Regions from separate parts of the Homo sapiens genome. Here all the other regions are linked to region 1. The links come from fine-mapping of genetic effects on gene expression. A gene starts in region 1. Each other region holds a variant in brackets. All regions are shown on one strand. Distances are from middle to middle.

Region 1 (10,360 bases):
TCCACACCAGGGTAGGGGGCCAGCAGAGCACTTCACACACACAGAAAGCCAGAAAAGCAATTACTACCTCATTATCAGGAATGCTAAAGAAGCCACACCTCACTCAACTGAGAATTTGCCTTTCTGGGCCCCCAAATTCCACTGACCCAGACCTCAGGGAAGATTGCCAGAACTCAAGAAGAGGCCAAAGCCACTGGGGTAAAGGAGAGGGAGGATGAGTAAGGAATGTCAGAAAAGGTGGTGTACTTAGAACAGACCACTGCACCTTTGATGTAATATTATTTTCAATACTGTTGCTGTCCACCTGAGTCTCAACCTGGGATCTCCTAGGCCTGGTTTCTGTCTTCCAAACACCCCCCACATCTGTCTGGGTGAAGGCATGTTTTATTACACACAGGCTAACAATCTCAGTGCATCGAGATGACATTTATCTCAAAACTAACATTGCAACCCACTCTAATAATGTTAGTCAATATCGGTATCAGATTTTTTTTTCCAGTTGATATTAACCAGCCTAAGCAATGGATGAGGTTTAATGTTATCTGGAAGTGGGAGGAGGCGACAGGAGGAGTGAGCTGCCACTTTCACTTCCTAAGTAAGCTGCTCTTTGGAAGCAGGGGCTCTGTTTCCAGAAATATGGCCCTACACAGAGCATAAGCACATCTGACTGTTAATGGCAGGAGATGGGCATCAGGAGGTAGGTAGAATAAGCAGGGGTGGGGGTACTCACTGAGCAGCTGGGGCAGTGGTTAAGAACAGGGACTCTGCTTCAAGTCCTGGGATAGACTTTGGGCTAGTTATTTAATCTTGTTGAGCCTCAGTTGTCTCCTCTATAAAACAAGGGAAATGATAACCACTGCACAGGGGCGCTGGGAAGATAAAATGAGCTAAAAACAAACAACAAAAACCCTAAACTCTTAGACCAGTGTGGGACACAGGAAGTCTATGTAAATGCTATTCTTATTTAGGGTCTACCAGATCAGGCCTGTCATCATTTCATTTAATCAAATCAAGCCTCAAAGCAATCTTTCCAGATAGGTAGAGTTAGCCCATTTTACAGATTCAAAAGCCAAGGCTCAAGAAGATTAAAAACCTTATCTGAAGTCACACAACTAGGAGAAGGAAAGACCAGCCCTGGAACCAAAGTAATCATCATAATCTTTATCATCATAATCATGACTTACTAGAAGCTGGGTGATGTGCTAAGCACTTTACATAGATTAGCTCATCAAATACTGAAAACTGCCCAGCAAGGAAAGCATTATTGTAACTAGTTTACAAAGGAGGACACAGAGTTGGAGTGGTTAAGTATGTTGGTGAAGGTCACACAGTTAGTTAAGGCAGTGATCCCCAACCTTTTTGGCACGAGGAACTGGTTTCATGGAAGACAATTTTTCCACAGACAGCGGCGAGTAGGGGCACAGGGGAGATCGTTTTAGGATGAAACTGTCTACCTCAGATCATCAGGCATTAAATTCTCATAAGGAATGTGCAGCCTAGATCCCTCGCGTGTGCGGTTCACCATAGGGTTCCCCTCGCATGAGAATCTGATGCCACCGCTGATCTGACAGGAGGCAGAGTTCAGGCGGTAATGCTTGCTCACTGCTGCTCACCTTCTGCTGTGCGGCCCACCTAAGAGGCCACCGACTGGTATTGGTCCATGGCCTAGGGATTGGGGACCCCTGAAGTAAGGAATAAAACAGGAATTGGATCCTGGTTCTGACTCCAAAACCCATTGTTTCTTCCATTTCAGCCCTGCATGTCTGGTATACTTTATAGACCCAACATCTCTATTTGAAATCATCAACACGCCTGTTTTCATATTAAGTATGAAACACTAGCTTTGTTAAATGGAGTCCAGAAATGACCCACTCACTGAAGGGGCCTGTGTTGTAAGGAGTTAGGATATCCCCTGCCAAAAAAGCCTAGCTTTCCCCCAGTTCCTTCCAAGAAGGTTTGGTTTTGAGGTCATAGGCAGCAATCTGGGCATGTGTTACAAGAAGCAGGGGAAGTTCTTACTCATTAGACTTTTAATCTTTTGGGAATTAGAAAACGAATACTCTCCCAAGTAAATCATCATCTGCTCTCAGCTCTGCTATCATGTAAGGCGTTTCCTTAGCAATATGTGACTGCCAGGCCCAGTTGCATGTGGCTCTGAAAATATCTACCAAATGACTACATTCTCCCAATTCTGACCCTAACCTGTATGGTGGCAATGACAGAACAGAAGGCCAAGGGACATCAACTTTCTGAAACAAATGTAATCAAGGTGAATGTTCATGTTTTATTAAAATCTTAATCTGCCAAAATCTGGCACTAATCTGGTGCTCACTTTGAAATTATCTGGGCCCTTACTACAGTGCTCTATAATTTAGAGGAAAAGGACGCTTCAGTAAAACAAATTCTAAAGTGGCAGTTTACTGGAGAGTAACTTTTAATTTCCATGCAGTATAATACAAAATTGCCTTGTTGGCTCTAAGGACGTGCATCCCTCATCAGGGAACTCTGCCCCATTAGAGGACCAAGGTGAGATCCCTTCAGAGTGGCATCATCCCCGGTTGGCTCAATGGCTCCAGAGACAGGGAGGATGGCGAAGAGAAGGGCCGGTGGCATGCCTGCCTTAGCCAACTCTGCACAGGAATCTCTGCCCACAGTTTGGACTGTGGCAGTTCCAGATAAAACACATGTTTAAATAAGAGTTCAAGCCAGGAAGTCTTGCCTGAATGAACTTTCTAGCGTGGGTAAAAAATGTCAGCTAACTGACATGCCAGTGACTACTCACCTCTCACCACAAGAGTCAAGTTTAGAAACAACACTTGCCCTCAACGAGTATTTGATGCGCTAAAGAGTTTTTCCAGAAACCAGGTCAGACCTTTTGGATAAATCAAAGGAGGCCCCTTGTGTGACATGCAACTGACTGTCCCTAGAAGATAAAAGAAAATGGGACTTCTGAAAACTTGCAAAATACCTAGAGCCTCTGCATGACAAAAATTCAGCATAAGTACACATTTTAGCTTTTCTAATTTCTTCTTGCCTAAAAAAAATCCCCCCAATAATAAGAATGATAGAAGAAACTAGTAACTTAAACCTTAAATCCTACGTTCATATCTTAGATTTTGAACAAATATTGAATCCTTTTCTTTGAATAAGAGATAAGACTTTGATAGTCTTGTGTAAGCAAATATCAGTGATCACACATACACTAGAAAAACACTTGATCTTTATGCCTATATTACTTACTGTTTCTATTTCTGATGTCTAATCTAAACAGCACTGCTGTTAGGATCAAAGTGACCATCCATGATGCACAGAGCACGTACCAGGGTAAAGTTCCAGCTGGGACGCAGGCATCAGCAATTGTAGAATTTGGGTTCTCCCTTCCTCAGATCCCTGACTGTCCTTGGTCATTCAAGAAAGATTCACTGTCCCTAGGCCAAGAGTCAGGAGCAAAACAGGAACACCAAGGGTATGGTCTGAGGATGTTGTCAGCAGGGAGCAACGTGCGTGTGTGTGCACATACACTAATTCTGAGACACTGTGCACAGCCCAGCTTTCTTGGAAAGCCATTTAAAAGATATATATGTGGCAACAGAGAGGAGGAAGTCTCAAGATTAAGAACAGCTTTTGAGTGTGTGTGTGTCAAAATATTCATTCCTATCACATGCAGTAAAACTGTATTCCAGAGCCATTAATACGCCCTGGGGGACTGAGGGGATTTGCAGCCTAAGATTTCAGACTTAAAGCCCGCTAAGGCCCTGAGCGGGGCAGCAGGGCAGGAGAAGGAATGGAGCGTTGAAGGGAACATTTTATAGACATTCTCCCTCATAGTGGCTGTACTAAGTAAACAATTAACGGGCACAAACTGCCACTCCAGTGTCTAATAACTACCTCTGCCAGAGCACCTGCCAGCGCCACCACCTTCCAGGTGTGTGATGCACATCATCTCGCTGAACTATGCTAGCCTCAGGAGAGGGTTGCTCTTTATTTTACAGGTGGGAAAACAGGGGCTTGGAGAGGTCAAGGAACTTGCCCAAAGTCACAGCATAGAAGTGACAGAATCCGAGTTTTGACCCAGATTTGATGGGTTCCAAAGCGTGAACTTATTTCTCCACTCCACAAAAATAAAACCTACTCTTCTTACAATATTTGAAAGAGCCCTCTTCTACCACTCTGCTGTTTGTTTTAAACACAGCTTGCTTATCTGTCTGGCATATTCGGTAGAAGTCTGTACTTTGTCAATGCCTGGTTTGCCTGGATTTCAGCTACCTGGCCCCTGGCATCTAAGCCTGGGTGAGAACAGGGAATCCACTCCTCTCTAAGATGCATCGTGGAGTTACTCTTTTACTCTTCCCTGAAAGTGATAGTTCAATCTTCAACAGGGGCTTTGAGGGAGAACAAACTCGACCCTTTGGCAAGCACGACTTCTGGCTTCACCGTTTTTTTGTTTTTTGTTTGTTTGTTTGTTTTTGACGGAGTTTTGCTCTTGTTGCCCAGGCTGGAGCGCAACAGGGCGATCTCGGCTCACTGCAACCTCTGCCTCCCGGGTTCAAGCAATTCTCCTGCTTCAGCCTCCCGAGTAGCTGGGATTACAGGCATGCGCCACCACGCCCGGTTAATTTTTTTTTTTTTTTTTTTTAGTAGAGACGGTTTCACCATGTTGGGCCAGGCTGGTCTCGAACTCTCGACCTCAGGTGATCCGCCTGCCTTGGCCTCCCAAAGTGCTGGGATTACAGGCGTGAGCCACCGCGCCCGGCCCTGGCTTCACCCTTAAAGCAGAAAGGCCAGAAGTCATCAAGGCCATGGGTTTACTAGCTTAGCTTCCCCAGACTTAATTTCAAACACCAACAACCGAAATGTTTCCTAGAATGCAGAGCTAATGAGACATCAACCTCTGTCATTTCCTATGTTTTTCACAATGTGCCAAAACAACTGCACACATTGGAGGCGTTTTTGAATGTGATATTCAGGCGACCTTGCCAAGCATTGTCTCATTTCCTTACTTTGTGGAGCATGAAACCCAAGGGAAGTTCTCACCCTCTCTCCAGGACCAAGCAGGACACTGGGAGCTGCTGTCCCGTCTGCAGGCGGGACTCCATGAAGGCCCCTGTCTGCCCTTCCAGCCTTTGCCACAAACCCTCGAACGCTGGCTGCACACTGGAATCACTTGGGGAGCTTTTAAAAGATACGGAGGCCTGGGTCTGACTCCGTGAGATTCTGATGGAATTGATCTAGGGTGCAGCCTGGATATCTGGATTTTAAAAGCTCCCCAGGTGGTTCTAAGCTGCTGGCACGATTGAGAACCCCTGCGTTCGACCACAGTGGGATAAACGATTCCGCTGACTGTGAAGTTCATCCCTCTCAACTTTCGCTACATGCTTCAAACTCGCGGGTTTCTCCGCTTGGTTCCACCCAGAGCTCCTCCAGAGCCGCGCTGCGTTCCGCCCGCACGCAAATCCCGCCTCCCTGCGCCTCCTCACTCGCAGCGCCCAGGACCTCAGAAAGGGCCTGCCCCGCGCGAATCCCCAGTCGCTGGGACTTACTTGGCCACCAGGTTTACAGACTTCGCAGCCGCTGAGAGCTAGAGAAGAGCCCGGAGAGCGCCATGGTCCGGGGACGCCGGGGCCGGGAAGCGCCGTGGCCCGGGAGGACGCTGCTCCCGCAGTAGCGCGAGGGAGGGGCAGGACCGGGGCGGCTGCCTCGCGGGCCCGGAACGGGAACTGGCTGCGACTACAGCCGCAGCCGCGCCCCTCTGTTGGCGCGCCCAAGAGCCTGCCGGCTGCTGGGAGAGGCCGCCGAAGGGCGGGGGCGGTCAAGGCAGGGTCCCACGGTGCTGCCATTCGCCCGGGTCTGGCGCGGGGGGGCGAGAGAAGCTGCGCGCAGAGGGACGCCCGGTGCGAGAGGGTGAGCCCCTGGCCACCGCGCAGGGCCGAGTGGACAGGCCCAAGTTCGCCCAGAGGTGACACACTTGGGAATTTGTGGTGCCATCGTGCCAGGTCCCTCCTCGTAAAAGTGCCTACCCAGCGCCTGCAACCAGAGCCAAAGCCTGGACATGATAGGGAAACTCTTGTTAAAACGCGACACGTGGTCCTGATGAAATGGAGGTTAACGTAATCAAATTTAAATTACACTGCATACATTTCAATTTATACTTTTTAAAAAATGTAAGCTTTTCTTCCTATCCTTAAATTTGTTCTTGGCAGTGTACATTTTATGTTCTATGCATATGCTCTAATAGGTTGTAAAAGAGTTTTAACATGCTAATAAATGTCCCCAATAAAATAGTTTTAAAACGTTTTGAATGGGGATCGTGTCCATAAGGGATATCATGCTACAGAAAGTTGTCACTTACTCACACTGAAGAAGTACATTCAATCATATAGCCACTGATGCTTGTGAGTATTAAAATTCCCATCAGAGGCTGCCCTCTGAGAAACAGAAAGTATGTTCTTAAATCAAAAGTGAAAGTGCAAACTAAAGTTGATAGGATCAAATGTGCCAACTTGTGTCAGGCCTCTGAGCCCAAGCCTGCATGTATACATCCAGATGGCCTGAAGCAACTGAGGAATCACAAAGGTAGTGAAAATGGCTGGTTCCTGCCTTAACTGATGACATTACCTTGTGAAATTCCTTCTCCTGGCTCAGAAGCTCCCCCACTGAGCACTTTGTAGACCTTCCACCCCCCCGGCCCCCGCCTTGCCCACCAGAGAACAACCCCCTTTGACTGTAATTTTCCACTACCCACACAAATCCTATAAAGCTACCACACCCCTAACTCCCTTTGCTGACTCTTTTTTTCGTACTCGGCCCACCTGCACCCAGGTGAAATAAACAGCTTTATTGCTCACGCAAAGCCTTTTGGTGGTCTCTTCACACGGACACGTGTGACATTTGGTGCCGAAGACCCGGGACAGGAGGACTCCTTCAGGAGACCAGTCCCCTGTCCTCACCCTCACTCTGTGAGGAGATCCACCTATGACCTCGGGTCCTCAGACCAAACAGCCCAAGGAACATCTCACCAATTTCAAATCGGGTAAGCGGTCTTTTCACTGTCTTCTCCAGCCTCTCTCACTACCCTTAAATCTCCCTCTATTTCCAATTCCAGTTCTTTCTCCTCTCTAGTAGAGACAAAGGAGACATATTTTATCCATGGACCCAAAACTCCAGCTCCGGTCACGGACTCAGGAAAACAGTCGTCCCTTGGTGTTTAATCACTGCAGGGACACCTGCCTGATTATTCACGTACATTTCATTGGTGTCTGATCACCGTGGGGATGCCTGCCTTGGTCATTCACCCACATTCCCTTGGTGGCAAGTCAATTGTGGGTCGCCTGCTTTGGCTGCTCAGCCACATTGCAGCCCAGGGCTGCTCACCACCCCCCTTCTCCGGGTCTCTACCTTCTTTTCTCTGGGCTTGCCTCCTTCACTATGGGCAACCTTCCACCCTCCATTCCCCCTTCTTCTCCCTTAGCCTGTGTTCTCAAGAACTTAAAACCTCTTCAACTCACACCTGACCTAAAACCTAAACGCCTTATTTTCTTCTGCAATACCGTTTGACCCCAATACAGACTCAACAATGGTTCCAAATAGCCAGAAAACGGCACTTTCAATTTCTCCATCCTACATGAGCTAGATAATTATTGTCGTAAAATGGGCAAATAGTCTGAGGTGCCTGATGTCCAGGCATTCTTTTACACATTGGTCCCTTCCTAATCTCTGCTCCCAATGTGACTCATCCCAAATCTTCTTTCTCTCCTGTCTGTTCCTTCAGTCTCCACCCCAAGCTCTGAGTCCTGTGAATCCTCCTTTTCTATGGACCCATCTAACCTCTCCCCTCCTCCCCAGGCTGCTCCTCGCCAGGCTGAGCCAGGTCCCAATTCTTCCTCTGCCTCCACTCCCCCACCCTATAATCCTTCTATCACCTCACCTCCTCACACCCGGTCCAGCTTACAGTTTCGTTCCGCAACTAGCCCTCCCCTACCTACCCAACAATTTCCTCAAGGTTAATGCTCCTTTTTCTTTATCCAACCTCTCCCAAATCAATTAGCATTTAGGCTTTTTTTCATCAAATATGAAAACATAGCCCAGTCCATGGCTCTTTTGGCAACAACCCTTAGACACTTTACAGCCCTAGACTCTGAAAGGTCAGAAGGCTGTCTTAGTATGCATTTTAGTACCCAATCCACTCCCGACGTTACATAAAGCTCCAAAAATTAGAATTCGGCCCTCAAACCCCACAAAAGGAATTAATCAACCTCACCTTCAAGGTGTACAATAATAGAAAGGAGGCAGCCAGACAGCAATGCATTTCTGAGTTACAATTACTTGCCTCTGCTGTAAGACAAAACCCAGCCGCACCTCCAGCACACAAGAACATCAGAATGCCTAAGCCGCAGTGGTCAAGCATTCCTACAGGACCTCCTCCATCAGGATCTTGCTTCAAGTGCCAGAAATCTGGCCACTGGGCCAAGGAATGTGTGCAGCCCGGGATTCCTCCCAAGCCATGTCCCATCTGTGCAGGACCCCACTGGAAATCAGACTGTCCAACTCGCCCAGCAGCCACTGCTAGAGCCCCTGGAACTCTGTCTGGCCCAAGGCTCTCTGACTGACTCCTTTACAGATCTTCTCGGACTGACGCTGCCCGATCGCCTCAGAAGCCTCCTGGACCATCACAGATGCTTTGGGTAACTCTTACAGTGGAGGGTAAGTCCATCCCCTTCTTAATTAATACGGAGGCTACCCACTCCACATTACCTTCTTTACAAAGGCCTGTTTCCTTTGCCTCCATAAATGTTGTGGGTATTGATGGCCAGGCTTCTAAACCTCTTAAAACTTCCCAATTCTGGTGCCAACTTGGACAACATTCTTTTATGCACTCCTTTTTAGTTATCCCCACCTGCCCAGTTCCCTTATTAGGTCGAGAAATTTTAACTAAATTATCTGCTTCCCTGACTATTCCTAGGCTACAGCCACACCTCAATGCTGCCCTTTTTCCCAGTTCAAAGCCTCCTTTGCATCCTCCTTTTGTATCCCCCCACCTTAATCCACAAGTGTAGGACACCTCTACTCCCTCCTTGGCAACCGATCACGCAACCCGTACCATCCCATTAAAACCTAATCACCCTTACCCCGCTCAACGCCAATATCCCATCCCACAGCACGCTTTAAAAGGATTAAAGCCTGTTATCACTCACCTGTTAACAGCATGGCCTTTTAAATCCTATAAACTCTCCTTACAATTCCCCCATTTTACCTGTCCAAAAACCGGACAAGCCTTACAGGTTAGTTCAGGATCTGCGCCTTATCAACCAAATTGTCTTGCCTATCCACCCTGTGGTGCCAAACCCATATACTCTCCTATCCTCAATACCTCCCTCCACAACCCCTCCATAGCCCATTATTCTGTTCTGGATCTCAAACATGCTTTCTTTACTATTCCTTTGCACCCTTCATCCCAGCCTCTCTTTGCTCTCACTTAGACTGATCCTGACATCCATCAGCCTCAGCAACTTACTTGGGCTGTACTGCCACAAGGCTTCATGGACAGCCCCCATTGCTTCAGTCAAGCCCAAATTTCTTCCTCATCCATTACCTGTCTTGGCATAATTCTTCATGAAAAAACACATGCTCTCTCTGCTGATCCTGACTGGCTAATCTCCCAAACCCCAGCCACTTCTACAAAACAACAACTCCTTTCCTTCCTAGGCATGGGTAGGTACTTCCGCCTTTGGATACCTAGTTTTACCATCCTGACTAAACCATTATATAAACTCACAAAAGCAAACCTAGCTGACCCCATTAATCCTAAATCCTTTCCCCACTCCTCTTTCCGTTCCTTAAAAAACAGCCCTAAAAGCTGCTCCCACACTAGCTCTCCGTAACTCATCCCAACCCTTTTTTCATTACACACAGCCGAAGTGCAGGGCTGTGCAGTCAGAATTCTTACACAAGAGCTGGGATTGTGCCCTGTAGCCTTTCTGTCCAAATAACTTAACCCTACTGTTTTAGCTAGCCCCCATTATTCCTGATACCACACCTGACCCCCATGACTGTATCTCTCTAAATCCACCTGGCATTCACTCCATTTCCCCATATTTCTTTCTTTCCTGTTCCTCACCTTGATCGCACTTGGTTTATTGTTGGCAGTTCCACCAGGCCTAATTGCCATTCACCAGCAAAGGCAGGCTATGCTATAGTAGTATCTTCCACATCTATCCTTGAGGCTACCACTCTGCCCCGCTCCCCTACCTCTCAGCAAGCCAAACTCATTGCCTTAACTTGAGCCCTCACTCTTGCAAAAGGACTACACGTCAATATTTATACTGTCTCTAAATATGCCTCCCATATCCTGCACCACCATGCT
Region 2 (10,360 bases), 32 kb before region 1:
GCCAAACTAAGCTTCATAAGTGAAGGAGAAATAAAATACTTTATAGACAAGCAAATGCTGAGAGATTTTGTCACCACCAGGCCTGCCCTAAAAGAGCTCCTGAAGGAAGCGGTAAACATGGAAAGGAACAACCGGTACCAGCCGCTGCAAAATCATGCCAAAATGTAAAGACCATCGAGACTAGGAAGAAACTGCATCAACTAATGAGCAAAATCGCCAGCTAACATCATAATGACAGGATCAAATTCACACATAACAATATTAACTTTAAATATAAATGGACTAAATTCTGCAATTAAAAGACACAGACTGGCAAGTTGGATAAAGAGTCAAGACCCATCAGTGTGCTGTATTCAGGAAACCCATCTCACGTGCAGAGACACACATAGGCTCAAAATAAAAGGATGGAGGAAGATCTACCAAGCCAATGGAAAACAAAAAAAGGCAGGGGTTGCAATCCTAGTCTCTGATAAAACAGACTTTAAACCAACAAAGATCAAAAGAGACAAAGAAGGCCATTACATAATGGTAAAGGGATCAATTCAACAAGAGGAGCTAACTATCCTAAATATTTATGCACCCAATACAGGAGCACCCAGATTCATAAAGCAAGTCCTCAGTGACCTACAAAGAGACTTAGACTCCCACACATTAATAATGGGAGACTTTAACACCCCACTGTCAACATTAGACAGATCAATGAGACAGAAAGTCAACAAGGATACCCAGGAATTGAACTCAGCTCTGCACCAAGCAGACCTAATAGACATCTACAGAACTCTCCACCCCAAATCAACAGAATATACATTTTTTTCAGCACCACACCACACCTATTCCAAAATTGACCACATAGTTGGAAGTAAAGCTCTCCTCAGCAAATGTAAAAGAACAGAAATTATAACAAACTATCTCTCAGACCACAGTGCAATCAAACTAGAACTCAGGATTAAGAATCTCACTCAAAGCCGCTCAACTACATGGAAACTGAACAACCTGCTCCTGAATGACTACTGGGTACATAACGAAATGAAGGCAGAAATAAAGATGTTCTTTGAAACCAACGAGAACAAAGACACCACATACCAGAATCTCTGGGACGCATTCAAAGCAGTGTGTAGAGGGAAATTTATAGCACTAAATGCCTACAAGAGAAAGCAGGAAAGATCCAAAATTGACACCCTAACATCACAATTAAAAGAACTAGAAAAGCAAGAGCAAACACATTCAAAAGCTAGCAGAAGGCAAGAAATAACTAAAATCAGAGCAGAACTGAAGGAAATAGAGACACAAAAAACCCTTCAAAAAATCAATGAATCCAGGAGCTGGTTTTTCGAAAGGATCAACAAAATTGATAGACCGCTAGCAAGACTAATAAAGAAAAAAAGAGAGAAGAATCAAATAGACACAATAAAAAATGATAAAGGGGATATCACCACCGATCCCACAGAAATACAAACTACCATCAGAGAATACTACAAACACCTCTACGCAAATAAACTAGAAAATCTAGAAGAAATGGATACATTCCTCGACACATACACTCTCCCAAGACTAAACCAGGAAGAAGTTGAATCTCTGAATAGACCAATAACAGGCTCTGAAATTGTGGCAATAATCAATAGTTTACCAACCAAAAAGAGTCCAGGACCAGATGGATTCACAGCCGAATTCTACCAGAGGTACAAGGAGGAACTGGTACCATTCCTTCTGAAACTATTCCAATCAATAGAAAAAGAGGGAATCCTCCCTAACTCATTTTATGAGGCCAGCATCATTCTGATACCAAAGCCGGGCAGAGACACAACCAAAAAAGAGAATTTTAGACCAATATCCTTGATGAACATTGATGCAAAAATCCTCAATAAAATACTGGCAAACCGAATCCAGCAGCACATCAAAAAGCTTATCCACCATGATCAAGTGGGCTTCATCCCTGGGATGCAAGGCTGGTTCAATATACGCAAATCAATAAATGTAATCCAGCATATAAACAGAGCCAAAGACAAAAACCACATGATTATCTCAATAGATGCAGAAAAAGCCTTTGACAAAATTCAACAACCCTTCATGCTAAAAACTCTCAATAAATTAGGTATTGATGGGACGTATTTCAAAATAATAAGAGCTATCTATGACAAACCCACAGCCAATATCATACTGAATGGGCAAAAACTGGAAGCATTCCCTTTGAAAACTGGCACAAGACAGGGATGCCCTCTCTCACCGCTCCTATTCAACATAGTGTTGGAAGTTCTGGCCAGGGCAATCAGGCAGGAGAAGGAAATAAAGGGTATTCAATTAGGAAAAGAGGAAGTCAAATTGTCCCTGTTTGCAGACGACATGATTGTTTATCTAGAAAACCCCATCGTCTCAGCCCAAAATCTCCTTAAGCTGATAAGCAACTTCAGCAAAGTCTCAGGATACAAAATCAATGTACAAAAATCACAAGCATTCTTATACACCAACAACAGACAAACAGAGAGCCAAATCATGGGTGAACTCCCATTCACAATTGCTTCAAAGAGAATAAAATACCTAGGAATCCAACTTACAAGGGATGTGAAGGACCTCTTCAAGGAGAACTACAAACCACTGCTCAAGGAAATAAAAGAGGACACAAACAAATGGAAGAACATTCCATGCTCATGGGTAGGAAGAATCAATATCGTGAAAATGGCCATACTGCCCAAGGTAATTTACAGATTCAATGCCATCCCCATCAAGCTACCAATGACTTTCTTCACAGAATTGGAAAAAACTACTTTAAAGTTCATATGGAACCAAAAAAGAGCCCGCATCGCCAAGTCAATCCTAAGCCAAAAGAACAAAGCTGGAGGCATCACACTACCTGACTTCAAACTATACTACAAGGCTACAGTAACCAAAACAGCATGGTACTGGTACCAAAACAGAGATATAGATCAATGGAACAGAACAGAGCCCTCAGAAATAATGCCGCATATCTACAACTATCTGATCTTTGACAAACCTGAGAAAAACAAGCAATGGGGAAAGGATTCCCTATTTAATAAATGGTGCTGGGAAAACTGGCTAGCCATATGTAGAAAGCTGAAACTGGATCCCTTCCTTACACCTTATACAAAAATCAATTCAAGATGGATTAAAGATTTAAACGTTAAACCTAAAACCATAAAAACCCTAGAAGAAAACCTAGGCATTACCATTCAGGACATAGGCGTGGGCAAGGACTTCATGTCCAAAACACCAAAAGCAATGGCAACAAAAGACAAAATTGACAAATGGGATCTAATTAAACTAAAGAGCTTCTGCACAGCAAAAGAAACTACCATCAGAGTGAACAGGCAACCTACAACATGGGAGAAAATTTTCGCAACCTACTCATCTGACAAAGGGCTAATATCCAGAATCTACAATGAACTCAAACAAATTTACAAGAAAAAAACAAACAACCCCATCAAAAAGTGGGCGAAGGACATGAACAGACACTTCTCAAAAGAAGACATTTATGCAGCCAAAAAACACATGAAGAAATGCTCATCATCACTGGCCATCAGAGAAATGCAAATCAAAACCACTATGAGATATCATCTCACACCAGTTAGAATGGCAATCATTAAAAAGTCAGGAAACAGCAGGTGCTGGAGAGGATGCGGAGAAATAGGAACACTTTTACACTGTTGGTGGGACTGTAAACTAGTTCAACCATTGTGGAAGTCAGTGTGGCGATTCCTCAGGGATCTAGAACTAGAAATACCATTTGACCCAGCCATCCCATTACTGGGTATATACCCAAATGAGTATAAATCATGCTGCTATAAAGACACATGCACACGTATGTTTATTGTGGCACTATTCACAATAGCAAAGACTTGGAACCAACCCAAATGTCCAACAATGATAGACTGGATTAAGAAAATGTGGCACATATACACCATGGAATACTATGCAGCCATAAAAAATGATGAGTTCATATCCTTTGTAGGGACATGGATGAAATTGGAAACCATCATTCTCAGTAAACTATCGCAAGAACAAAAAACCAAACACCGCATATTCTCACTCATAGGTGGGAATTGAACAATGAGATCACATGGACACAGGAAGGGGAATATCACACTCTGGGGACTGTGGTGGGGTCGGGGGAGGGGGGAGGGATAGCATTGGGAGATATACCTAATGCTAGATGACACATTAGTGGGTGCAGCGCACCAGCATGGCACATGTATACATATGTAACTAACCTGCACAATGTGCACATGTACCCTAAAACTTAGAGTATAATAAAAAAAAAAAGAATCTAAAAAAAAAAAAAAAAAAAAAAAAGAATTGAAGGCAGTCCTTGAAGAGACATTTGTATGCCCATGTGCACAGCAGCATTATTCACAACAGCCAAAGCATAGAAGCAAGCCAGTGTCTGTTCTTGGATGAATGAGTAAACAAAATGTGGCATAGCCATGCAATGGAGTATTACTCAGCCTTAAAAAAGAAGGAAATCCTGGCGGGGCACGGTGGCTCACGCCTATAATCCTGACACTTTGGGAGACCGAGGTGGGTGGATCATTTGAGGTCAGGAGTTTGAGACCAGCCTGGCCAACATGGTGAAACCCCGCCTCTACTAAAAATACAAAAATTAGCTGGGATTGGTGGCGGGTGCCTATAATCCCAGCTACTCGTGTGGCTGAGGCGAGAGAATCGCTTGAACCCAGAAGGCAGAGGTTGCAGTGAGCCGAGATCATGCCACTGCACTCCAGCCTGGGCAACAGAGCGAGACTCTGTCAAAAAAAAAAAAAAAAAAAAAAAAAAAGGAAATCCTGTCCCATGCTTCCATGTGGACGAATCTTGAGGACATGATGCTAGTGAAATCAGCCATCCCCAAAAGGCAAATACTGTATGATTCCACTTACATGAGGTAGAGTAGTCAAAACCATAGAGAGAGTAAGTAGCAGGGTGGCTGCAAGAGGCAGGGGGGAGGGGGACCGGGGAGTTATTGCTTAATGGGCACGGTTTCAGTTTCGCAGCATGGTGAAAGCTCTCCACTATCTCTCCCCGACAGCGAGCCCCAGTGGTCCTTCTGGTGTACTGATGTATGAAAAGAACAGCAAGGCCCGCCCCCCACACACACAGCAGGTTGTACCACATACATCCATCCCCTTCTACTCACCCAACCTCAGAGATTGATTTGCTGTTCTTCACAGCCAGGGCGAGATACTTCCCTCCTTCACTTGTTATTTTGTTTTTTCCCAGTCTGCAGAGAGAGTCACACACAGTCAGCCTCCAGCTATGCAGGGGCTCCAATGTGGGTCACCCTCCTCCCCAGCACAGAGCCCCTTCCAGCCCCATCTTGGGAACCGTACACTTTCTTCTGGGATCCACAAGAGCCATGGCCTGGGCCTCCTGTCAGGG[A/C]GGGAACTGAAGCCCTGAGGACAGTCAGTCAGGGTTCCTCTCCAGGAGATGGTCCACAGTCTCTGCAGAAGCTCAGGGACCTGAGCCCTCCCTGGGGTCCTCTAATTGACCTCAGCAGCATCACTGACTTCCCTCGGGAGACCTGGGAGGTCCCACTTTGACTGCCAAGGGTCAAGGTATGTGGCCACTGTCAGGGCAGGACCAGAGGCTCCAAGCCTGGCGCACTGTCACCCCCTGCGCAGGGCACACCTACAGCAGGGCAAGGGCCCAAGCTCTTCCTTGCAACCCGACAGGAAACTCCCTTGGGGCAAAAAGACCACCAGAAAGGGTGAGAGTTAGTCCTTTCTTCGGCCTAGTAGTTAATGAAATCAAAATGCCAACCTTTCCCCCTACCAATAACGGGAGGCCCTTCCAGAATCCAAGCCTCACAGATCACACAGAGGTATCTTTACTTGACCAACATGGCCCTGGGACAAGTGGAAGGCTTTAGGATGAAAGCTCTTTACTGTGACATTTAATCTTTGAACAACAGAAGGGGGTGATCAAGAGAATATACTAAGGAACCTGGTGCCTACCCCACTTACTTAAGATGCGTGAGGCCTTTGCATTCATCCAGGATTTTGGTGACGTACCTGGCTCCGACATCGGTGATCTGGTTGTTGTATAAACTTCAAGAGAAAGCACAGCCATGAGACTTTCTGGCTCCTGATGTCATTTTAATAGCCCCTGTTTTTTGAAGCATATGGTGTCTACTGATTTCCAAAGTCTGGGTTGAAAGGGGAACACACAGGCACCAGAGTTTAGGGCTCTGAGGTCTCACAGCTCAGGTTCAAAACCAGCTCCACTACTTTCCCCAGCTTTATGGCCTGAGACAAGTCACGTTACCTCTCTGTGCCTCAGTTTCTCCATCTGTAATACAGAGGTAATGATGATAGTCCCCTTGCAGGGTGGTTATGAGGATCTTAGGACATAACGCAAAGCCCTGGTGCATGAGTGCTCGGTGACTGGCAGGTGATGGGTATTTACAACTAAGATTACATTCAGCGTCTTGAGAAGAAAAGATTCTGAATATTAAAACTTCTCGATGTCTACCTTTCAGCCATCTCACCGCTCAATGCCAATTCAATAGTACAGCAGATGGAAGTTGAAAGGCAGCTAAGCTCAGGCTTCCAGGGTTCCACAGCCACACAGAGCCCTGGAGCCGAGTGTGGCCCGGGGTCGTTTGCGTCCATGTCCTCATTAACATCGAAGGCCACTGAGGCCCCAAGAAACTGAACAACTGCTCCAGCTTGCAGAGCCACCAGTTGTGTGGGGCTGGCCCGCAATCCCTTCTCTCAGACTCCAAAACCTCAAAGGCTCTGAATGCCCAAAGTTTCTCACAATTCTTTTGGCAACTGATGTGGAGCTACTTATAGTCTTTCTTACCACACTTGGTTTGACTGTTTCATACATTCTGCGGGAGAAATATGAAAGTGTTTGAAAATGGGGCACTGCCTTAGACCCCTGCGGCCACGTCATGCCATAGCATGCACTCAGAATCCCCATTCGGGTCTTGCCCCAAAGGCTCTGGATGAGGGATTATGGACCCAAAATAGTCCAGACTAATATGTAAACAGGATTCTAGCATTTATTAAATATATCCCCTTATATTCTCGTTGCATCCCCCAATAACCAGTTGTAAGCCTACTTGCCTATACTGGGATCCCAGTTTTACAGGTGAGGAGGCTGAGGCTCAGCAAGACTTCATGACTGGCCGAGCCACAAAGAGAACCCAGGACTCTCAACTCCTGGGCCAGCGCTCTTCCCAGCCCTGGGCCATCCGTGCCGATCATCCAGGGACCTATGGGAATGTGAATTCCCTGCAGCTCTGTATTATTACTAGGTAGTTGGCCCAGTGTTCTGGAGAAAGACATACCCCAAATAGGTCACAATTTTGTATTTGGTCAGCTCTTCGCTTAGCACCTTTACCCCACCGTCAGTGATCTGGTTTACGCTGAGTCTGAAATAAAACAGCAAAAAAATTACGAGTCAGGGCAGGCACTCATTATGAAGGACCATTAATCTTACAAAGATCCAGAAGCCTTCAGGCCCTGGAGTTTTCTCAGGTATAGACGCCCCTGGAGAATGGCCACAGCAATCAGCCAAATAGCCCCTTACAAAGCCTGGCCAACGTGGGGCCGCCAGACCCATCCTGCACCAGCCCATGAGCGAGGCTGCAGCACAGCCCCTGGCTCCTCACACGACCGTGAAGGACACAGGGAGGACGTGTGAGGCCAGCCACCTCTGACATCCACCCTTTGCGTGTGACCTATGTGTCAGCCAGACCCTGTACCTGGTTCTCGTATGGTGGAGGGCATGGGTTTGGAAATGTCAGGGGCTGCTTTTAGTGGTTGTGACTGGAGGAGGGAGTGCCCTGTCATCTTGCAGGCAGGGCCAATGATGTTAGGTGTCCTGCAAAATGCTGGACAGGTCTCACAAGAACTGTTATACCCAAAATGCCAACAGCTTCCCCCCATCCAGAAACACATGGGCTAACCCTGATTTGTCACTGGAAAAGGCTGTGAGTCCCACTGTCAAAGGAGACTGCTCATGTCATTCTGTAAAGTGTCAGACAGCAAATATTTTAGGCTCTGTGGGCCATGTGGTCTCTGTCACAGCTACTCAACTGTGTAGTGTGAAGCAGCCAGTAAGTAAATAAATGGGTATGGCTGCGTTCCAATAAAACTTTACTTAGAAACACAAGCCTTGGGCCCAATTAGACCCACAAGCTGACCTTGATAACAAGTAAAAGGCTGAACAATTAAAAGCTTGATTTTTAGGCCACATCAAAATGATCAAGTCAGACACTCTGGACCCTTTCCCTCAGAGTCCCCAGCTTGGTGCTGGGAAATAGTGTGTATGTACATGGCATGGCCAGCCCAAGACAGCACAGGCTGCTAGACATTCCCAATATCTATACTTTCTTAGCAATAGATTCCCCCATCTTTTAGCTGGGCCCATCTCATTAAATTCTGCCCATACCATTAAGTTCTGAAATCTAAGCAGCAATATAATTAGTAATAGCCAAGAAGTGTTCTTAAAAGATTGAGGCATGCTCTCAATCTTTGCCCTTCCTTCTTACTGATAGCTAGAGTGTCGACTAGATGGCTGGAGTTTGAGCAGCCCTCTTGGGCCAAGATGGGAAAGCCGGGTAGTGAGGATGGCAGAACAGGAAGGCAGAAGAGAGCCTGGGCTCCGGAGGGTCATGGAGACTCCATACCAGTCCTGAACTACCTACCTCTAGACTTTTACATGAGAGAAATAAGCTTGTAACTCACCAACATTTGGGGTTTTCGCTCTCAGCTAAAACTAATCCTAACTGATGCAGCCAGAGAACTGAGTGTGCTTCCCGTGGTTACCCATATCCTCTGCTTTCCTACAAGCTGTTTTTTCTTGCACTGGTGTGAAGGAAAGCTTCACCTGGGGACAGCAGGAAGGGCAGGGCCACCACACTGGTGTGGAGTTTCCCATTGAAAAGATGGACAGAGGGGTCGGGTGCGGCGGCTCATGCCTGTAACCCCAACATTTTGGAAGGCCGAGGCGGGCGGATCACCTGAGGTCAGGATTTCAAGACCAGCCTGGCCAACATGGGGAAACCCCGTCCTACTAAAAATACAAAAAACTTAGCCGGACATGGTGGCGTGTGCCTGTAATCCCAGCTACTCAGGAGGCTGGGGCAAGAGAATCGCTTGAACCCAGGAGGCGGAGGTTGCAGTGAGCTGAGATCACGCCACTGCACTCCAGCCTGGGCAACAGAGCGGGACTCCATTTGGGGGAGAAAAAAAAAAGATGGACAGAGGGTGGCACTGAGTGTGAGACTGCCTGGGGCTACAGAGGGAGAGTCACTGGCTGAGAGTACAGAGAACAGACTCCAGGTTTTCCAATTCCCAGGCTAGGGCAGCCTTCGACCCCCTGCACCCCATGTCCCCATGCAATTATTTACACTCTGACACTGGTGTGACAGGCACTGGGAGTCAGTTCCAAATCCCTACTGCTTTTTAGAAATGCATGAGTCAAGTAATGGCAAATTTAACCCCCTGTAGAGATTTACAAGGTTTATTTTACATAGGAAATGCTAATAGAAGAAAACAGACTGGGCTCTGTTTCCCGTAAACTATGGAACAGGAAAACAACCACGAGTCAGCATTTTAACTGAGGTCTCTAGCAGTGTGAAGGGCTGCTAGCGTTGATCACAGAAAGTCACCAGTGCCAACTGGCACAAGGTCTGCTTTCTCTGCAGTAATAAAAGCTCCCATATTCCAGAAACTTTTTGAGGGCTATCTCGGAGCCTTACATTAATCTTAAAAGGAAGGTTCTTTATGCATTCTGGCACTGCTATGTCTGAGCTGTGTGACCTAAAGCAAGCTATTAACTTCTCTGTGCCTCTACTTCCTTATCTGCCAAAATAGAGACAATAACAGTACCTAAGTTACAGGGTTGTAAAGAGCATTCCATTAGGTAATATTTGTAATGCACTTCACCCATTCTCAACTAACATTGGTCCCTGTGGCCATAATTGATAGGATTATGAGCATCTTCTTTTTCCAGATGAGGGCGTGGAGGCTCTGAGAGTTAAGCACTTTGTTCAAGGGCACCCAGCTGTGGCTGATCCAGGTCCACCTGCCTCGAAGCTTTGCACCTTGACCTCTGCCCTGCTAAGAAAGAAAAGGTCTGGACATTCCAAGGGCCATGGTCATGAGTCCTGGGGGATCCTGGTCCATGATGCCATTCCCGATGCCCTCCGAGCCTGGCCCGCCCGGCCCACCTGTTGCTCCCCTTGCCTGGCAGCCTCACCTGAGAACAGTGAGGCGGCTGAAGCAGGGCTGCAGCTCCCGCACGCCGTAGTCGTTGAGATTGTTGTTGTCTAGGTCTAGGGCCAGCCGCTTGGGGAAGTGATGCAGGACGAAGGAGAGGGCGCTGCAGTCGGCCGAGCAGG
Region 3 (10,360 bases), 58 kb before region 1:
GTAGGTTGCGAAAATTTTCTACCATTTTGTAGGTTGCCTGTTCACTCAGATGGTAGTTTCTTTTGCTGTGCAGAAGCTCTTTAGTTTAATTAGATCCCATTTGTCAATTTTGTCTTTTGTTGCCATTGCTTTTGGTGTTTTGGACATGAAGTCCTTGCCCATGCCTATGTCCTGAATGGTAATGCCTAGGTTTTCTTCTAGGGTTTTTATGGTTTTAGGTCTAACGTTTAAGTCTTTAATCCATCTTGAATTGATTTTTGTATAAGGTGTAAGGAAGGGATCCAGTTTCAGCTTTCTACGTATGGCTAGCCAGTTTTCCCAGCACCATTTATTAAATAGGGAATCCTTTCCCCATTGCTTGTTTTTCTCAGGTTTGTCAAAGATCAGATAGTTGTAGATATGTGGCGTTATTTCTGAGGGCTCTGTTCTGTTCCATTGATCTATATCTCTGTTTTGGTACCAGTACCATGCTGTTTTGGTTACTGTAGCCTTGTAGTATAGTTTGAAGTCAGGTAGTGTGATGCCTCCAGCTTTGTTCTTTTGGCTTAGGATCGCCTTGGCGATGCAGGCTCTTTTTTGGTTCCATATGAACTTTAAAGTAGTTTTTTCCAATTCTGTGAAGAAAGTCATTGGTAGCTTGATGGGGATGGCATTGAATCTGTAAATTACCTTGGGCAGTATGGCCATTTTCACGATATTGATTCTTCCTACCCGTGAGCATGGAATGTTCTTCCATTTGTTTGTATCCTTTTATTTCCTTGAGCAGTGGTTTGTAGTTCTCCTTGAAGAGGTCCTTCACATCCCTTGTAAGTTAGATTCCTAGGTATTTTATTCTCTTTGAAGCAATTGTGAATGGGAGTTCACTCATGATTTGGCTCTCTGTTTGTCTGTTGTTGGTGTATAAGAATGCTTGTGATTTTTGTACATTGATTTTGTATCCTGAGACTTTGCTGAAGTTGCTTATCAGCTTAAGGAGATTTTGGGCTGAGACAACGGGGTTTTCTAGATATACAATCATGTCGTCTGCAAACAGGGACAATTTGACTTCCTCTTTTCCTAATTGAATACCCTTTATTTCCTTCTCCTGCCTAATTGCCCTGGCCAAAACTTCCAACACTATGTTGAATAGGAGTGGTGAGAGAGGGCATCCCTGTCTTGTGCCAGTTTTCAAAGGGAATGCTTCCAGTTTTTGCCCATTCAGTATGATATTGGCTGTGGGTTTGTCATAGATAGCTCTTATTATTTTGAAATACGTCCCATCAATACCTAATTTATTGAGAGTTTTTAGCATGAAGGGTTGTTGAATTTTGTCAAAGGCTTTTTCTGCATCTATTGAGATAATCATGTGGTTTTTGTCTTTGGCTCTGTTTATATGCTGGATTACATTTATTGATTTGTGTATATTGAACCAGCCTTGCATCCCAGGGATGAAGCCCACTTGATCATGGTGGATAAGCTTTTTGATGTGCTGCTGGATTCGTTTTGCCAGTATTTTATTGAGGATTTTTGCATCAATGTTCATCAAGGACATTGGTCTAAAATTCTCTTTTTTGGTTGTGTCTCTGCCCGGCTTTGGTATCAGAATGATGCTGGCCTCATAAAATGAGTTAGGGAGGATTCCCTCTTTTTCTATTGATTGGAATAGTTTCAGAAGGAATGGTACCAGTTCCTCCTTGTACCTCTGGTAGAATTCGGCTGTGAATCCATCTGGTCCTGGACTCTTTTTGGTTGGTAAACTATTGATTATTGCCACAATTTCAGCTCCTGTTATTGGTCTCTTCAGAGATTCAACTTCTTCCTGGTTTAGTCTTGGGAGAGTGTATGTGTCCAGGAATTTATCCATTTCTTCTAGATTTTCTAGTTTATTTGCGTAGAGGTGTTTGTACTATTCTCTGATGGTAGTTTGTATTTCTGTGGGATCGGTGGTAATATCCCCTTTATCATTTTTTATTGTGTCTATTTGATTCTTCTCTCTTTTTTTCTTTATTAGTCTTGCTAGTGATCTATCAGTTTTGTTGATCCTTTCAAAAAACCAGCTCCTGGATTCATTAATTTTTTGAAGGGTTTTTTGTGTCTCTATTTCCTTCAGTTCTGCTCTGATTTTAGTTATTTCTTGCCTTCTGCTAGCTTTTGAATGTGTTTGCTCTTGCTTTTCTAGTTCTTTTAATTGTGATGTTAGGGTGTCAATTTTGCATCTTTCCTGCTTTCTCTTGTGGGCATTTAGTGCTATAAATTTCCCTCTACACACTGCTTTGAATGCATCCCAGAGATTCTGGTATGTTGTGTCTTTGTTCTCGTTGGTTTCAAAGAACATCTTTATTTCTGCCTTCATTTCGTTGTGTATCCAGTAGTCATTCAGGAGCAGGTTGTTCAGTTTCCATGTAGTTGAGCGGTTTTGAGTGAGATTCTTAATCCTGAGTTCTAGTTTGATTGCACTGTGGTCTGAGAGATAGTTTGTTATAATCTCTGTTCTTTTACATTTGCTGAGGAGAGCTTTACTTCCAAGTATGTGGTCAATTTTGGAATAGGTGTGGTGTGGTGTGCTGAAAAAAATGTATATTCTGTTGATTTGGGGTGGAGAGTTCTGTAGATGTCTATTAGGTCTGCTTGGTGCAGAGCTGAGTTCAATTCCTGGGTATCCTTTTTGACTTTCTGTCTCGTTGATCTGTCTAATGTTGATAGTGGGGTGTTAAAGTCTCCCATTATTAATGTGTGGGAGTCTGAGTCTCTGTGTAGGTCACTCAGGACTTGCTTTATGAATCTGGGTGCTCCTGTATTGGGTGCATATATATTTAGGATAGTTAGCTCTTCTTGTTGAATTGATCCCTTTACCATTATGTAATGGCCTTCTTTGTCTCTTTTGATCTTTGTTGGTTTAAAGTCTGTTTTATCAGAGACTAGGATTGCAAACCCTGCCTTTTTTTGTTTTCCATTTGCTTGGTAGATCTTCCTCCATCCTTTTATTTTGAGCCTATGTGTGTCTCTGTATGTGAGATGGGTTTCCTGACTACAGCACACTGATGGGTCTTGACTCTTTATCCAATTTGCCAGTCTGTGTCTTTTAATTGGAGCATTTAGTCCATTTACATTTAAAGTTAATATTGTTATGTGTGAATTTGATCCTGTCATTATGATGTTAGCTGGTGATTTTGCTCATTAGTTGATGCAGTTTCTTCCTAGTCTCGATGGTCTTTACATTTTGGCATGATTTTGCAGCAGCTGGTACCGGTTGTTCCTTTCCATGTTTAGCGCTTCCTTCAGGAGCTCTTTTAGGGCAGGCCTGGTGGTGATGAAATCTCTCAGCATTTGCTTGTCTGTAAAGTATTTTATTTATCCTTCACTTATGAAGCTTAGCTTGGCTGGATATGAAATTCTGGGTTGAAAATTCTTTTCTTTAAGAATGTTGAATATTGGCCCCCACTCTCTTCTGGCTTGTGGGGTTTCTGCTGAGAGATCCGCTGTTAGTCCGATGGGCTTCCCTTTGTGGGTAGCCTGACCTTTCTCTCTGGCTGCCCTTAACATTTTTTCCTTCATTTCAACTTTGGTGAATCTGACAATTATGTGTCTTGGAGTTGCTCTTCTCGAGGAGTATCTTTGTGGCATTCTCTGTATTTCCTGAATCTGAACGTTGGCCTGCCTTGCTAGATTGGGGAAGTTCTCCTGGATAATATCCTGCAGAGTGTTTTCCAGCTTGGTTCCATTCTCCCCATCACTTTCAGGTACACCAATCAGACGTAGATTTGGTCTTTTCACATAGTCCCATATTTCTTGGAGGCTTTGCTCGTTTCTTTTTATTCTTTTTTCTCTAAACTTCCCTTCTCGCTTCATTTCATTCATTTCATCTTCCATTGCTGATACCCTTTCTTCCAGTTGATCGCATCGGCTCCTGAGGCTTCTGCATTCTTCACGTAGTTCTCGAGCCTTGGTTTTCAGCTCTATCAGCTCCTTTAAGCACTTCTCTGTATTGGTTATTCTAGTTATACATTCTTCTAAGTTGTTTTCAAAGTTTTCAACTTCTTTGCCTTTGGTTTGAATGTCCTCCCGTAGCTCAGAGTAATTTGATCATCTAAAGCCTTCTTCTCTCAGCTTGTCAAAGTCATTCTCCATCCAGCTTTGTTCTGTTGCTGGTGAGGAACTGCGTTCCTTTGGAGGAGGAGAGGCGCTCTGCGTTTTAGAGTTTCCAGTTTTTCTGTTCTGTTTTTTCCCACCTTTGTGGTTTTATCTACTTTGGGTCTTTGATGATGATGATGTACAGATGGGTTTTTGGTGTGGATGTCCTTTCTGTTTGTTAGTTTTCCTTCTAACAGACAGGACCCTCACCTGCAGGTCTGTTGGA[G/A]TACCCTGCCGTGTGAGGTGTCAGTGTGCCCCTGCTGGGGGGTGCCTCCCAGTTAGGCTGCTCGGGGGTCAGGGGTCAGGGACCCACTTGAGGAGGCAGTCTGCCCGTTCTCAGATCTCCAGCTGCGTGCTGGGAGAACCACTGCTCTCTTCAAAGCTGTCAGACAGGGACATTTAAGTCTGCAGAGGTTACTGCTGTCTTTTTGTTTGTCTGTGCCCTGCCCCCAGAGGTGGAGCCTACAGAGGCAGGCAGGCCTCCTTGACCTGTGGTGGGCTCCACCCAGTTCGAGCTTCCCAGCTGCTTTGTTTACCTAATCAAGCCTGGGCAATGGCGGGCGCCCCTCCCCCAGCCTCGCTGCCGCCTTGCAGTTTGATCTCAGACTGCTGTGCTAGCAATCAGCGAGACTCCGTGGGCGTAGGACCCTCCGAGCCAGGTGCAGGATATAATCTCGTGGTGCGCCGTTTTTTAAGCCGGTCCAAAAAGCGCAATATTTGGGTGGGAGTGACCCGATTTTCCAGGTGCGTCCGTCACCCCTTTCTTTGACTCGGAAAGGGAACTCCCTGACCCCTTGCGCTTCCCAAGTGAGGCAATGCCTTGCCCTGCTTTGGCTGGCGCACGGTGCGCGCACCCACTGACCTGCGCCCACTGTCTGGCCCTCCCTAGTGAGATGAACCCGGTACCTCAGATGGAAATGCAGAAATCACCCGTCTTCTGCATCGCTCACGCTGGGAGCTGTAGACCGGAGCTGTTCCTATTCGGCCATCTTGGCTCCTCCGCTTTTTTTTAATTTTTATACAAATCCTGATTAGTAAGATACATATTCATATTATTAGTCCTCAGTTTCCTCATTCAGGAAATAATTCTACTTCACAGGGTCATTGGGAGGAAGTTTTTATTTGGCCTGATGTTCATGGGTTTAGCCAGGCTGGGTTTGTTTAGGCAAAGGAAGGACACATACACATATTTATAAATAAAAAGGTTTTACATGAAGGAAAACTGATTTTAAAGATTGTGACACTTGCCCACTAGTAAGTGGTTATCTTCAACAGTGCCACTTTAAAACAGATGCTGATGTGTTCATTTATTCTTCCCTGCAGCCAGTCATTGGCATAGCACACGTATGTGTATGGGCGGTGCCTGAACACTGGTCTGGTGTGAAGGTTAGGGCAGGGAGTTTTATTCTATTCAAAAGAGACACTGCTGGCTTCACATTACATTGGTCTCTAATTTTCACTTGCTTCCAAACTTACTACACCCTTGACATAGGTTAAAAAATAATATTTCATAGCAACGGTCTGGGTTTTTTTGTTTGTTTTTGGTTTTGTTTTTGTTTTGAGATAGGGTCTCACTGTGTCACCCAGGCTCACTTACAGGCTAGACCTCCTGGGCTCAAGCGGTCCTCCCACCTCAGCCTCTGGAGTAGCTGGGACCACAGTTATACATCACTATACCTGGCTAATTAATAGCAAGAATCTTTGCCTTGATAATCTCATTCCAAAGAAATAACTATAAAGAATTTTTTAATTCCATAGAAATATTGTCTATAGTGACCACCACCACAGTCAATCTGGAAACTTGAAGGTCTAACCTGAACGTCTGGAATATTATTAAGCAAATTCTCAAACTGGTAGAATATATTAATAAATAATAGAGACTAACAGTGTGGGAAAATGACAAAAAGAACTGCTAATGTACTCTGTGATTATAATTATGTAAAAAGATGTCTCAAAGTAGGCAGAGCATGGAAGATTACATACAAAAATTAAAATAGCTGTGTTAGTGTTGTGTTACTATAAACATTAAATTTTTCCCTTTATGACATTACTGACAAGGCTAATCCCCCCTAAAATGGAGTATTTTCCTATTTGGTGCCACAAAGCCAATACACAAAATTGAAAGTGTGCATCTAGCAGTGCAGGCTTTATTTGATGCCCATAGAACTGAGATGTGGGAGCCTGGCTCACAAATCAACTTCTCAGCCCATGAGGGATAGGGCATCCCCCTATGACAGCCAAGAAATCACAAATATAGGACATTCCCCATGAGAGCCAGGAAGTCACAGATATGGAGCATCTTTAATGAAGGGGTTGGGGAATTAAAAGCAAGGGGAAAAGTATTCATGTCTTTTCTGGGAATTAGGTAGATAACTTCTCAGAACCAGAGTTTTTGTCCCCCTTTTTTGTCCTTTTATGGTTTCTTCTGGTCGTTGTCATGGTGATTGTCAGCTGTCTTGGCACTGGGGGGAGGGTCATTTAGCATGGAAATTAGATTATAATGAAGTTAGAGGTTCTTCAGAGGTCAAGTGAGCTGCCATCTTGGTTCCCACCACTCTTAGCTGGTTTGGTGTCATGATGGGGAGCTTTTGACCACAGACATCCCGTTTCCTAAAGATAACCAGAGTTAAGGTGGGGAAGAAATTTACTTAGGTCACACAGACGTTACACTGGGTAACAACATTACTTTGACAACAAAAATAAATGCACTTTATAACAGAAAAAAGTCCAGGAAAAAATTGAGACACTTTAATATTTGTTATTGGTCTGAAAAAACACCCAAGTAGTCATGGGAAAGATTAGAAACTTGTTTAACATCTTTGCACTTACTTTATAATTTAGTATTTAAATATTTTCATTATAGATCCAGAGGGGCCTATAACCTTTTCAGTACTTAATGTCTCTAAGAGTCTTAAGCTGGTCTTGGGTGCAGTTCATTCCATTTTAAGGTTGAGAGAGTAGTGTTGGGATGTCCTCTGGTAAAATGAGTCTCAGCCTCCTCATAATGCCATTCTACTTTCATTAAAATTCTTCTTCATGATCCTGGGTTAATGGTCATGGTTTTGCCTTTCAGCTCTAGAGCAAGGTTTTTTTCTTGTAAGTAAGCAGTTGGTTACTGGAAACAGACCTGTGGTCCACCTGGAAGTGAACCAAAATATGGATGAGCAGAAAGCGCTTTCCCGCTTGGCAAAGGCTCATGGGCCTGGCTCCATAGGGTGGTGCCAGCTCCTGCCCTGTTCTTTTGTGCTGTGAAGACACAGGTGCCCCCTATGTTCAGTGACTTGACACTTAAATGGCAGTATGGTCTTTGGTAATAATAATGAAAACTAACAGCTATGCTTTTCACTGACAAAGGTAGGATATTGCAGGAAGCTTGATGTTGAATACTTTGGGGTTTTACTTTGAGAACTCCTAGTCCTGTATTGGACCTTGTTGGAAAGTTCCCTGAGCCTATGAGTGAGAAGGGGACAACTTGGGAGTCCCACGGTGAGCGGAAATGAGACCCGCTGGCTTGATAGTAACTAACTGCCATACGTTGAGCAGGACTCTGTGCCAGGCTTTGTGCCAGCTACTTTCCATGACTCATTTAATCCTCTCAACAACCTTTTGAGTCAGATTCTCTCAGTTTTTCCAAGGAGGAAATCAAGATTCTGGCCGTCTTAAGAGTGCTCCAAAGCCACACAGCTAGGGCGCTCCAGAGAGCTAATACCACATGGCCACACAGTGGCTCCACATGGCTTTTTAAAGAAGTTCCATGTCAGCATGGACATGACACAAGTGCAGGTGTGAAATATGGGAGCTGTAGCTTCTTTCCCAAAATCAATCAAGATGTCCTGTGGAAAGAAAGAGATATAGCCCTCGTTTACAGAATTTTTTTTTTCAATTGTCTTTTTCTTGATTAGGAAAAGTCTCCATGTTTCTGCTCAGAAGCTCACCTGTTTCTAATAAGAGAACCTTTCCATCAAATTAGGAGCCTGGTCTCAGTTTTACAGGAGGAATAGAAAATCTACCACTTGCCATCTGGAAGATCAAAGTATTTCCAAATAGAATTTAAGTCAATACCACACAAATTCTAATTCCCTAGAAGCAGCAGTTTTAATTTTGATAGTCTCTAAAAGCAATAACATTTGGTAGTTTCTGAGTAAATTTTAGACTCTCAAGGGTTTAGTTTTAGCAGTTTAATAAAATGTGAATTTTGTCTGCTGAGAAGTGAACTTTGTGGTAAGACTTGGCGAGTCTGAGGTCTGTGGTACTCCCCCTTTGGCCTTCAGTGGGCCATGCTCATTCCCTTCTTTCTTCTTTCTGGGCATATTTGCTGCCCAGATTCTGCAGTAAGGAGAGAGTGGCTGCCTTGGGGTGATTATTAGGTGAATACTCAGGTCTGGGGTTGGGAGGGACCTCGTAGGAACCACCAAAATCGAGCCTTTAAGGAACTGCCGCCTTGTAGTTGCTTAACTGTACAGGATTTCCCCCGCAACGGTCCCCTTCCTAACAGGCTGCTCTACAAAGCCAGGCTTGGACTCATAAGAACTCAGAGGTGGACCGTTGGAGGCCCTGCATGCCTTCCTCTGTCACGTGCTGCCCCTGGCAGCTCGGTGCTTCTTGCCATGGGCCTACCTGGATCCGCCACTCAGCAGTGAACAGCCGAGGAAGGTAGTGGACGTCGAACCTGGCCCGTGGGCTCTACCATGGCATGGTGATGAAGGCATGAACTTTGGCCCACTTGGCCTGTCCTGGCACCAGCCACCCCCTACTCACAAGTTATTTCCTCTGAGAAGCCACCTGAAGAGATTCAGAGGCCAGATGGAGAGACCTCAGAGGCTGCCACAGCCGCTTCCTGTCCCTTGGTAGGCAGAGAGGCCTGTGAAGGATCAAACTGGTGACACCCCTGGCCTTCATCAGGCTCTCCTCATAGCACATCACCCCAGAGCCCCTTCCCCACTGTGGAGTGAATCAGGATGGGGCTCAGGAGTCAATGAGTGCTTACCAAGCCAAGTCCCTTCAAAAACTCCAGACTCAACCCGTAAGAGTGTTTTCAGTATTTTATTAACAAATGAGCTGGCAAGAGGACAAGTGATCTAGTAGTATCACCCCCACCCTCATGGAGCAGCCACCACAAGCCCACCATGGTGGGGGGTGTCCAACATGCTCTGCTGGCCCAGTTCCCAGCCGATCCCCTGAGTCTTGGCGCCCGTTTAGTCACCCTTCAGCTGCTTGGGAGGCAGGAAGAGACTTCCCCTCTTCACGAGGTAAGGGAGACAAAAGCAGCCATTTGGATGCCAGGGCCACAGGGGCAAGCCATGCCCTATTTCTTTGGAGGGACAGAATCACTTCTTCCCAAGGCCAGACACTGTAGCCCATGGTACTCAGCCTTCTAGAGGAGGGTAGCCTAGCAGAGGAGAAGCCCTGAGTGGAAGCAGCATTTTGAAGGCATCGTCATTCTTAGACCAGCTAAGAGCTGAGGGCATTCTCTATCTTTGCCAGCAGACAGTGAGACTCCAGGATTAAAATTAAAAGCCCGTGGTGCATCCTTTCCTTGACATTAACTTTCCACAAAACCTTGGAGGAGTCAAATCCCACACTGCACATACTCCGGTGTCTCCAGCTGTGAAGTGGGACCAGTATCAATACATGGGAAAGTGCTGAGAAGGAAGAAAATATTTCAGGTATAATACTAATCCATCAAACACGTTTTATTCAAGAAGCTTGGCACCAACTTTGTGCCACATCCTCAACTCTTCAATGAAAAGAGCGGTGACCAACTCGCTCCCGTTGGTCCCTATGGCAGGTGTTGGAATGAGGTGAGGCTGGCCTCCTCTGTTTGCTCACAGCTTTATTCCTCTAGCTTCAGATAAAAATAATTATAATAGGCAATAAAGTCTCTTCACAGTGTATTTACTGTAACTACAACAGCTCGCAAGACACATTCTTTTTCTGCAGAATTGTAGCGGGTACTTAGGGAGTTTGCCGACCAGACCTTCTGCACAGGAAGCTGGCTTGCATCATGGAGGCAGTGGACTCCTGATAGTCCCGCCTGCGCAGGCCCCTTTAAGACACTGACACAAAAGACTGCCCAGAGTGGCATTTGCTGCTGAGGCTCCAGGGCAAAAACCCCATGAACAGGAAAGCATCCTCTCAGAAACAGATAATCCGCTTCTCATCTTCATAGACTTTGGCCTCCTCTGGTTTTATCAGGTTTCCATTTAGGCTGTTGAAAAGGAGGAAGACAAAAGTACACAGGTAAAATGTT

Alleles and levels. Positions count from the first base shown, and alleles are read on the strand shown. Sizes are in standard deviations (SD) of each study's normalised expression. Not every link is listed here.
For the expression in whole blood of the gene that starts at base 5,719 in region 1, C is the high allele of the variant in region 2 and A is the other (moderate effect, 0.69 SD a copy in GTEx).

Evidence for each region. PIP is the estimated chance that this variant, and not a neighbour inherited with it, causes the effect.
Region 2: its variant is fine-mapped to the expression of NOD1 in whole blood (TOPMed, PIP above 0.99). The same link has a PIP of 0.9 or more in aorta, blood mononuclear cells, breast, cerebellum, esophagus mucosa and esophagus muscle.
Region 3: its variant is fine-mapped to the expression of NOD1 in whole blood (INTERVAL, PIP above 0.99).

The regions. Positions count from the first base shown.
Region 1 is chr7:30,473,066-30,483,425 of GRCh38, forward strand. NOD1 (nucleotide binding oligomerization domain containing 1) reads right to left here and starts at 5,719. Exons shown (of 14, transcript NM_006092.4): 1 at 5,541-5,719. RefSeq lists an enhancer at 5,215-5,959 and a silencer at 5,608-5,847.
Region 2 is chr7:30,440,998-30,451,357 of GRCh38, forward strand. It overlaps NOD1 (nucleotide binding oligomerization domain containing 1), which reads right to left. Exons shown (of 14, transcript NM_006092.4): 6 at 10,219-10,360; 7 at 7,301-7,384; 8 at 5,970-6,053; 9 at 5,144-5,227. Among named protein-coding and RNA genes, the nearest start is that of NOD1, 33 kb to the right of the region's middle. RefSeq lists a silencer at 4,842-5,001 and an enhancer at 8,529-9,029. The variant A/C (reference allele first, on the strand shown) is at 5,386.
Region 3 is chr7:30,415,393-30,425,752 of GRCh38, forward strand. It overlaps NOD1 (nucleotide binding oligomerization domain containing 1), which reads right to left. Exons shown (of 14, transcript NM_006092.4): 14 at 9,135-10,318. The coding sequence ends at 10,246. Among named protein-coding and RNA genes, the nearest start is that of LINC01176, 30 kb to the left of the region's middle. RefSeq lists an enhancer at 4,223-4,826. The variant G/A (reference allele first, on the strand shown) is at 4,337.